2 linked regions of the Homo sapiens genome follow. The protein of the gene in region 2 interacts with the protein of the main gene of each other region in a pairwise test. Each region holds a gene or a part of one and is shown on either strand. Other genes may lie near its edges.

What was found.
Region 1: the proteins of MLYCD (region 2) and IDI1 come close enough for resonance energy transfer, tested with the Homo sapiens proteins (one large-scale study listed by BioGRID).

What each region holds. Positions count from the first base shown.
Region 1 is NC_000010.11:1,039,110-1,042,933, forward strand, and holds the end of IDI1 (isopentenyl-diphosphate Delta-isomerase 1), read right to left. Parts: intron 3,654-3,824; coding exon 3,523-3,653; intron 2,396-3,522; coding exon 2,078-2,395; 3' UTR 310-2,077; downstream 1-309. UniProt on the Homo sapiens protein: Catalyzes the 1,3-allylic rearrangement of the homoallylic substrate isopentenyl (IPP) to its highly electrophilic allylic isomer, dimethylallyl diphosphate (DMAPP).
Region 2 is NC_000016.10:83,901,834-83,905,657, reverse strand, and holds part of MLYCD (malonyl-CoA decarboxylase, mitochondrial), read right to left. Parts: intron 1-3,824. UniProt on the Homo sapiens protein: Catalyzes the conversion of malonyl-CoA to acetyl-CoA.

The sequences.
Region 1 (3,824 bases), on a different chromosome or scaffold from region 2:
CACTGCGGGTACGACCTGGACTTGTCCCCAGGGAGCAGGTGGAGGGCAGTTCCCACAGGGACGCACTGCGGGTACGACCTGGACGTGTCCCCAGGGAGCAGGTGGAGGGCAGTTCCCACAGGGATGCACTGCGGGTACGACCTGGACTTGTCCCCAGGTGCCAGGGCCAAGTAAGAAGAAAATGTGCCTTCCTTCCTATTATACCATTTTCTGTTTTGGTCTTGTTCTCTTGATAATATAGGTAGGGAAACAGAATCAGCAATTATTAGAAGGCCACCTCTACTTTGTCCTTAAAGGAGTTGGCAATGGTTTGACCAGAATCAAAGAAGTATATATTTTGAAGATTAAGAGTTTAAAACAGTTTAAGAAAAAAAAAATTTATAGGTACCATTTAGCTTTCTAGTTGAAAACCAACACATCTGCCTTTGGGGTCAGAAGCAGCTATATCTAGGAGAGGGATACTCCTCTTTATAAAAGATGAAGGAGTTCTAAGGAGTTTATCAGGTCAAAAGACATTCCTTACATTTTCTGGATGGCATCCTAGTAATATTACAACAGTAGTATCTAACTCTTGCTAAGTACTTAACAAGGTGCTGGGTAGCAGTCTAAGGGTCCCATGTCCAATTCAGTAGCCATGGCAACTCATAGTTATCACATAACTAATTATATGTGGCTTTCAGCCTAAAACTTCCTAGAAAATAAAACTAAAAAAATTAGAAACAATATTATAAATGCAACGGAAACTATACAGGCAATATCCTATTAGTGTATCAAAATTTTAACAAACTAAACACAGTATTAAATTGCAATTTTTTTTACTTTTCAATAAAATACTTGCTAAACAGTCTTGTCTGAAATTATAAATTGCCCAAAGTTAACCATAAATGAGTCATTCTATTGAATTTAACAAACATTTAACTTTGCAAGAAATAAATTTTTATTTTTCTTCATTATCATACAGCATTTAAGAATAATAAATCTGTCTTGAGGTTTCAAATCTGAGATATCTATGGCAAGTTTATAAAAAGTACATTGATCAAGGTACAATTTTTAACATTAATATACACATTCCATAATCTCATCTATTTAACATTAACACAGGCCTTTGTTGTTGTTATTTTTTTCTCCCTACAATATTTCCTGACTCTGTAGGACAGTGGTCCTCAGTTGGGGGTTGACTCTGTCCCCTAGGGGCATCTGGCAACATCCGGCATAACTGTGGGTGTCACATGAGAGGGACGCTGCTCACCATCCTGCAATGCACAGCACAGACCCCACCACAGGGGTTTTATCCAGCCCAAATGTCAACAGTGTCAAGTTTAAGCAACTCTTACCGAGTGGGACTCAATTCCCATTTTATGAACACCTCTGTGCTCACTGTAATTCTGAAAACACAGACTTTGCTAACTGGTAAATACTATTTACAAGAAGATTCAACCTAATCAATATCACTTATCAAAAGCAGTGGCTGACTGTAAGTATCAACATGTTTCCAGAATGAATAAACCACACAATCAACTCAGAATGATACAAATTAGGGTCCATATCATTTAATTTCCCTTGAACCTGCTCTGCTAGTTTAATCTGCTAATATGAAAGTTAATTAAGACTGTTTTGAAGGAGCGAGACAATAGTTTCCTTTGCACATTTTTCTGAACTATGAGAAAAATTTAATGATACATAAAGCACCTGGCAAATAGCAAGTCCTCTGCAAGTGCTCCGGAAATGTTTATCACAGCCTACTAAAAACAGAGTTTCACTCATTTGTTCAAATTTCCCATAAGTATGTATCTGCAAAGATTAAATTAAGTTTTATTTGCTCGCTCTCATTTTACAATAATCTCTCACAAATGTCGCTTAGAAACAGAACACATATCCAGGGTGTGTGATACAAAATTATAAGTTAGTTTTTTCCACACAAGTTTTAAAGTATCAGTGTATATAATACATTAATGATAGTACCAAATGATAGAACTAAATTTAATGATAAATTAATGATAGAACTAAATTTAAAAGGAAAAAGTCATTCTAAGTTTGTTAAGCAGATAAATTTTTCTGTAATCATTTACCTACATATTCACATTCTGTATATTTTCTCATGGTCAACAAACTGATTCAAATGATTTAAGTTATCCCACCATTTAAAGAGAAAAGTCGCTGCAATAATTTTAAACCATGGCGTTATCTTAATTTCACCACTGGCTGCTTTTTTCAGAAGTTCTTTTAGTTCTTCCTTTGACACATAACAATAGCTTTTAATCTCATTGGGATCTGGATTCAAAGTTACATTCTTCCTCACCAACAAAATGTAATCAATTTCATGTTCACCCCAGATACCATCAGACTGAGCTTTGTAGTGAATTCGTGTTAAATAATTAATTTCTTCTGGAGGAACCTAAGACATTAAAAAAAAAAAAGTAATTAAAACATCGGCCACCGTAACAAAAAAAATCTAAAATTAGCTCACTGTATTACAGCGATATCTCGAACAGCAGTATAGTTTTAGGATTAGAACTTGGTTAAAGCATTAATCTCCTATCAATGGTATATGGAAATCTTAATATTATATATGGAAAAATGATTACATCATTAGTTTCAAGTGTTTGCGTTTTTTTCCCGATCAGATAAGTTTTTTTTTTTTTAATGTTAAAAAAAGGGGCAGTCACTCAAACTAGAAATGTGACATTCTTCTTTTTCTTCTTTTTTTTTTTTTTGTGAGACGGAGTCTTGCTGTCACCCAAGCTGGAGTGCAATGGTGTGATCTCAGCTCACTGCAACCTCCGCCTCCCAGGTTCAAGCGATTCTCCTGCCTCAGCCTCCTGAGTAGCTGGGATTACAGACGTGCCGCCCCACCATGCCCAGCTAGTTTTTGTATTTTTAGTAGAGACGGAGTTTCACCATGTTGGTCAGGCTGGTCTCGAACTCCTGACCTCGTGATCCACCTGCCTCAGCCTCCCAAAGTGCTGGGATTACAGGCGTGAGCCACCACGACCGGCCCGACATTTTTCTTTTTCATATTTTAAAATTGCTTTTTGGAAAATATAGATAAGAAATACTTTATTTATCCAGGTCTTATTTAAGGGGGACAATTCCAAGAAAAAAAATGATTTCAATTAAACCAATGAGATTTATGGTTCATATTCCTAAGAGTTTCCATCAGAAAATCTTCACCTTTTTTGTAGGTGGGGAGTTTTAGGTGAGAACTGGAAAACCTGTCAGTTAAATTCTACAAGAGCTGTAACACTTGAAAATACTCATCTTAGATTTGATCAATTATAGAAATATTCAACCTTATATAGTGCTTAACAGATCAATCCATCCCCGTATTGAGCTAAGTTTTGACAAGTGATATTAAGAAATTAAAATTTAAATAATCTTTATTCAAGATGGTTTGTGGGGCTAACTCATAACTCCGGAGGTTACCAAGCAGAGAACTACATTTGAATTTAAAAATTTTATTAAAAACCTTTTTATAGTATGTTTAGGTTTCAGCTTGTATGGTTGTGTAGGAGAGCTGGTTACCTCTTCCAAGGGAATTCCTAGCTCAGCTTTCAGCCGTCTCTGTGCTGCTCGCCTCACTCCAAGGGCGTCACTTTCCTCAAGCTCGGCTGGATTGCTTAATGGATGACTACAACACGTATTCGTAAAACAACCTGGAAAATGGTAATACAGAGACAGATCAACTTTTCTTCAAAGTAGGTCTGAAAGATCAAGAAAAAGTTTTATAAGTAACTGAAAAATGAAATGATTTTTAAGGATTTTAAAATCAGTTATAATGGGCTATCAGTAATTATTTTAAGGATTTTAAAATTGGTTATAATGGG
Region 2 (3,824 bases):
GCCCTTGGCCCATCTTTTTCTTTGTCCTTTCCACTGCAGACTGGAAGGCGGTGTGATGGCTGGCATTGGAGCAGCCATCCTGGGCCACGACGTGGCTTTGGAGATGAAGGTTTTTCTCGGCAGAGCAACAAGATTCAAGTCTGAATCCACCAAGAGCACCAAAGAGCAGAATCAGCTCTGGGCTGCCCACCTCTAGACTTTCACATGACAGACAAACTTCTGTCATATTCAAATCACTGTTATTTTGGGTCTTTGTTACTCATAAACTACATAGTAACAGATCCACTGAACATTATTATTAAATAACAGTAAACATCTCAGGACATCTGATACAAGAATGACCTTCTGAATCTCTCTACAAGGGTCATAAAGAACACAATGGGCAACACCTATAAGAATGGCTTTACAACAGCTAGAATTTTTTTTTTTTTTTGAGAGATGGAGTCTTCCTCTGTCACCCAGGCTGGAGTGCAGTGGTGCAACCCTGGCTCACTGCAACCTCTGCTCCCTAGGTTCAAGCGATTCTCCTGTCTCAGCTTCCAAATTTTATAAAACAATTTTACATTTTAATCCCTGTTAAAGGGTGAAAGGACTCAGAACTTTGACGCCTGAGAAAGAGTTGCAGGTTTTGGGGTGATGGCTCAGAGAAGTTTTCGGAAGGAGATGAGGTCTCCTTTTACATGTTTAAGCACTAGGGCACGAAAGAGGCCACAAATTTGTTCTGTGTGACCCCATGGGGGCCGGGGAAGGAAATCTAGGACTGACTGGTGGAAGTCATGGGCAGTCAGATGTGGACTCAATTTAGTGTAAAGAGGAACTTTTGAATAGCTGGAGCTGTCCACAGAGGTCATCCTGGGAGACGGTGACCCTCAGCACTGGAAGCCATCAAGCACAGGTGGACAGAACTCAACGGAGCTGTTTGAAAACGGATTTAAGCATTAGATAGACAGCTGGACCAGAAGATCTTTGCAATTCCTTTTAACTCTACATTCCATGACTCAATCTCCTTTACTTGGTTGTAAACGCCATAAAAGCAGGATCCACTTCTGATTCATTTTTATAGTTCGCAAAGCATTCACTAATAGATTGATATCAAATGAAAAAGATGGAAAAATGGAATGAATCGTGATTAGGAAGTAGCAAGAGGGCAGGATGAAAGAGATCATTTGCTAGGTGACACAGAATGGCCCTTTGTAAAACTGTACTTTCTGCATTTGACTATAGCAATTCTTAATCTTCCTGGGATCCTCTCACACTCTTACGTGCTAAAAACCATAGGCCCTGCCCCCAAAACACTGCAAATACATTAGTAAAATTGTGCATACGTTTTCCTGGGGTACATGGACTCCTCTGATACTTATCTATGGACCATCCCAGGGGCCAGGAGGGCTTCTGTACCCCAGTTTAGGAACGGATGAGCTGAGCTCTGCGTAAGAGGTACTGGTATCTGTCTTACATTCGTGATATGAAAAAAGCTGGAAATACCTAGTTTTACTATCAATTTAATATTAATTATGAAAGAAATGGTTTGGCTGATGAAAGCTCCTCCCCTACAGATCTCTTCATTCTATTTTGGGCTCCTGACAGCTACAAAATGTGACACTGGTACACGAGAACTGGGAATCCAGGCTAAAGGTTAGAAGTCTCCGTTGCTCAGTTCTAACACCGGCAGCAGCTGTTCAGGCTGGGATGAGCCACAGCACGCGGCAACGTTGCCAGGATACAAACACCACCAGGGAAAGAGGCCTCTGCAACTGTACGTGCGTTAATTCAGGCACCATTTATCACCAATACAAGACTGAGAAACACAACTGCGGGGAATATCCTGGTGATGCTAAGGGCAGCGACAGTTCTCAGTGGATTCTGCTGGAGTGTTTCTTATTTTTTTTTTCAGAGGCAGGTCTTGCTCTGTTGCCTAGGCTGCACTTGAACTTCCGGGCTCAGCTGAACCTCCCAAGTAGCAGGGACTACAGGTGCGTGCCACTGCACCCGGCTCTGTGTATTGTGTATTGTTAATTCCATTGACTTGTATGACACCGTTTAGACCAGCCCACTTTTCCTTTTAAAAGAGAAACTGGTTCCCTCTCTTTTGAAGCTCTATCAAGATCTGCTTATTTTGGTATGTGAAGAAAAGTTACCTTCCCTTGTCCAGAAGCCCTGCTCTGGGGAAGGGAGGATAAAGTCATGGATGAGGGTAGCACTGCAGAGGCTGAGAAATTTGGGGAAAATTCCCACTCACGTAAGCTGACACTCCGCAGGTGTACACTTGATGCTATGGGTATACTGTCCTATCTAAAAATAAGTATTATTTAGCATAGGTAAGCACAGAATTTACTAGAACCAACAAGGAGTACTCAATTAACTAAAAGGCAGAGGGTACGCAGGTGTCTAGCATGGCCGGGTGGCTGTGGCAGTGGGAACCAGGTCCCTTCTCTAGTTTCTGTGCCTCTGTTAAGGTTGGAGCACCTCTCATTCCACCCTAACAGCAAGGTCCAAACTGCCCATGAGGAACCCTTTCCATGAATTAAAGGCCAACCTTCCTCGAGTGCCCACAAATCACTGAACCTCGCTCAGACCTTCCCCTCTACTGGGGATTCGACTCGGTTTCACTGGGATTTCACCTCTAAGAAACTGAAGTCATCAACCAACTGGGCCTCTGGAGAAAAACAAAAAGCCTATAAACCACCATCCCCCAGACACATCACATCCTCATACCCACACCTACCATGCAACCACAGGGACACACATACCTCCAAACTCCTCTACATTCAGGAGGCCACAAATCCAGGCAGTAACAAGCCTCCAAACTCACTCAGATCAGAGGAAAAGAACATTTTAAAAAGTAAGAACACAGCCAGGCACAGTGGTTCACACCTGTAATTCCAGCACTTTGGAAGGCCAAGGCGGGCGGATCATCTGAGGTCAGGAGTTCCAGACCAGCCTGGCCAACATAGCAAAACCCCATCTCTCCTAAAAATACAAAAATTAGCCAGATGTGTTGGCAAGCACCTGTATTCCCAGCTACTCAGGAGGCTGAGGTGGGAGAATGGCTTGAACCTGGGAGGCGAAGGTTGCAATGAGCAGAGATTGTGCTGCTGCACTCCAGCCTGGGCAACAGAGCAAGACTCTGTCTCAAAAAAAAAAAAAAAAAAATCAGATTAAAAAAATAGATCAGATCATACCACATTAAGTGATTCTGGTGAGAGGTTACAATATCAGATCCCAGTTGATAGTTTATAGGTACAGAACAATCTAATTCTATTCTAAGACTGATTTAAGCGACAGGGATTTTAAAAAAATTACATCTGGGCTCACACCTATCTATAATCCCAGCACTTGGGATTGGAGGATTGCTTGCTTGAGGCCAGGAGTTCAAGACCAGCCTGGGAAACGTAACAAGAAAAAACATAAACATGAACAAAAAAATAAACACAAACAAAAAACCGTAAACAACAAAACAAAAAACCATATATATATATATATATATATATATATATATATACGCACGCACACACACACACACACATATACACATACATATATATGTGTATATATGAGAAAACAACTACGTAGAACAAGGGAAGGGGAAGGGAATTAATAGGTTCAGCTACTAACAGTTACATGCACTGAATATAAGGCTGGGGTTTCTAGGTAAAGAAATGGAAGGGGCACAATAAAGCAATCACAGAAAGGCTCCTGAAGCCATTATGTCCAAACCATATGCAGAGGCAAAGATCAGACTGTCGTTATTCATTCTGTTTGATAAACACCTCTGGTCCACAGGACTTTTGGCCTAGCATTACAGTATGCAATGTTTTTTTCCC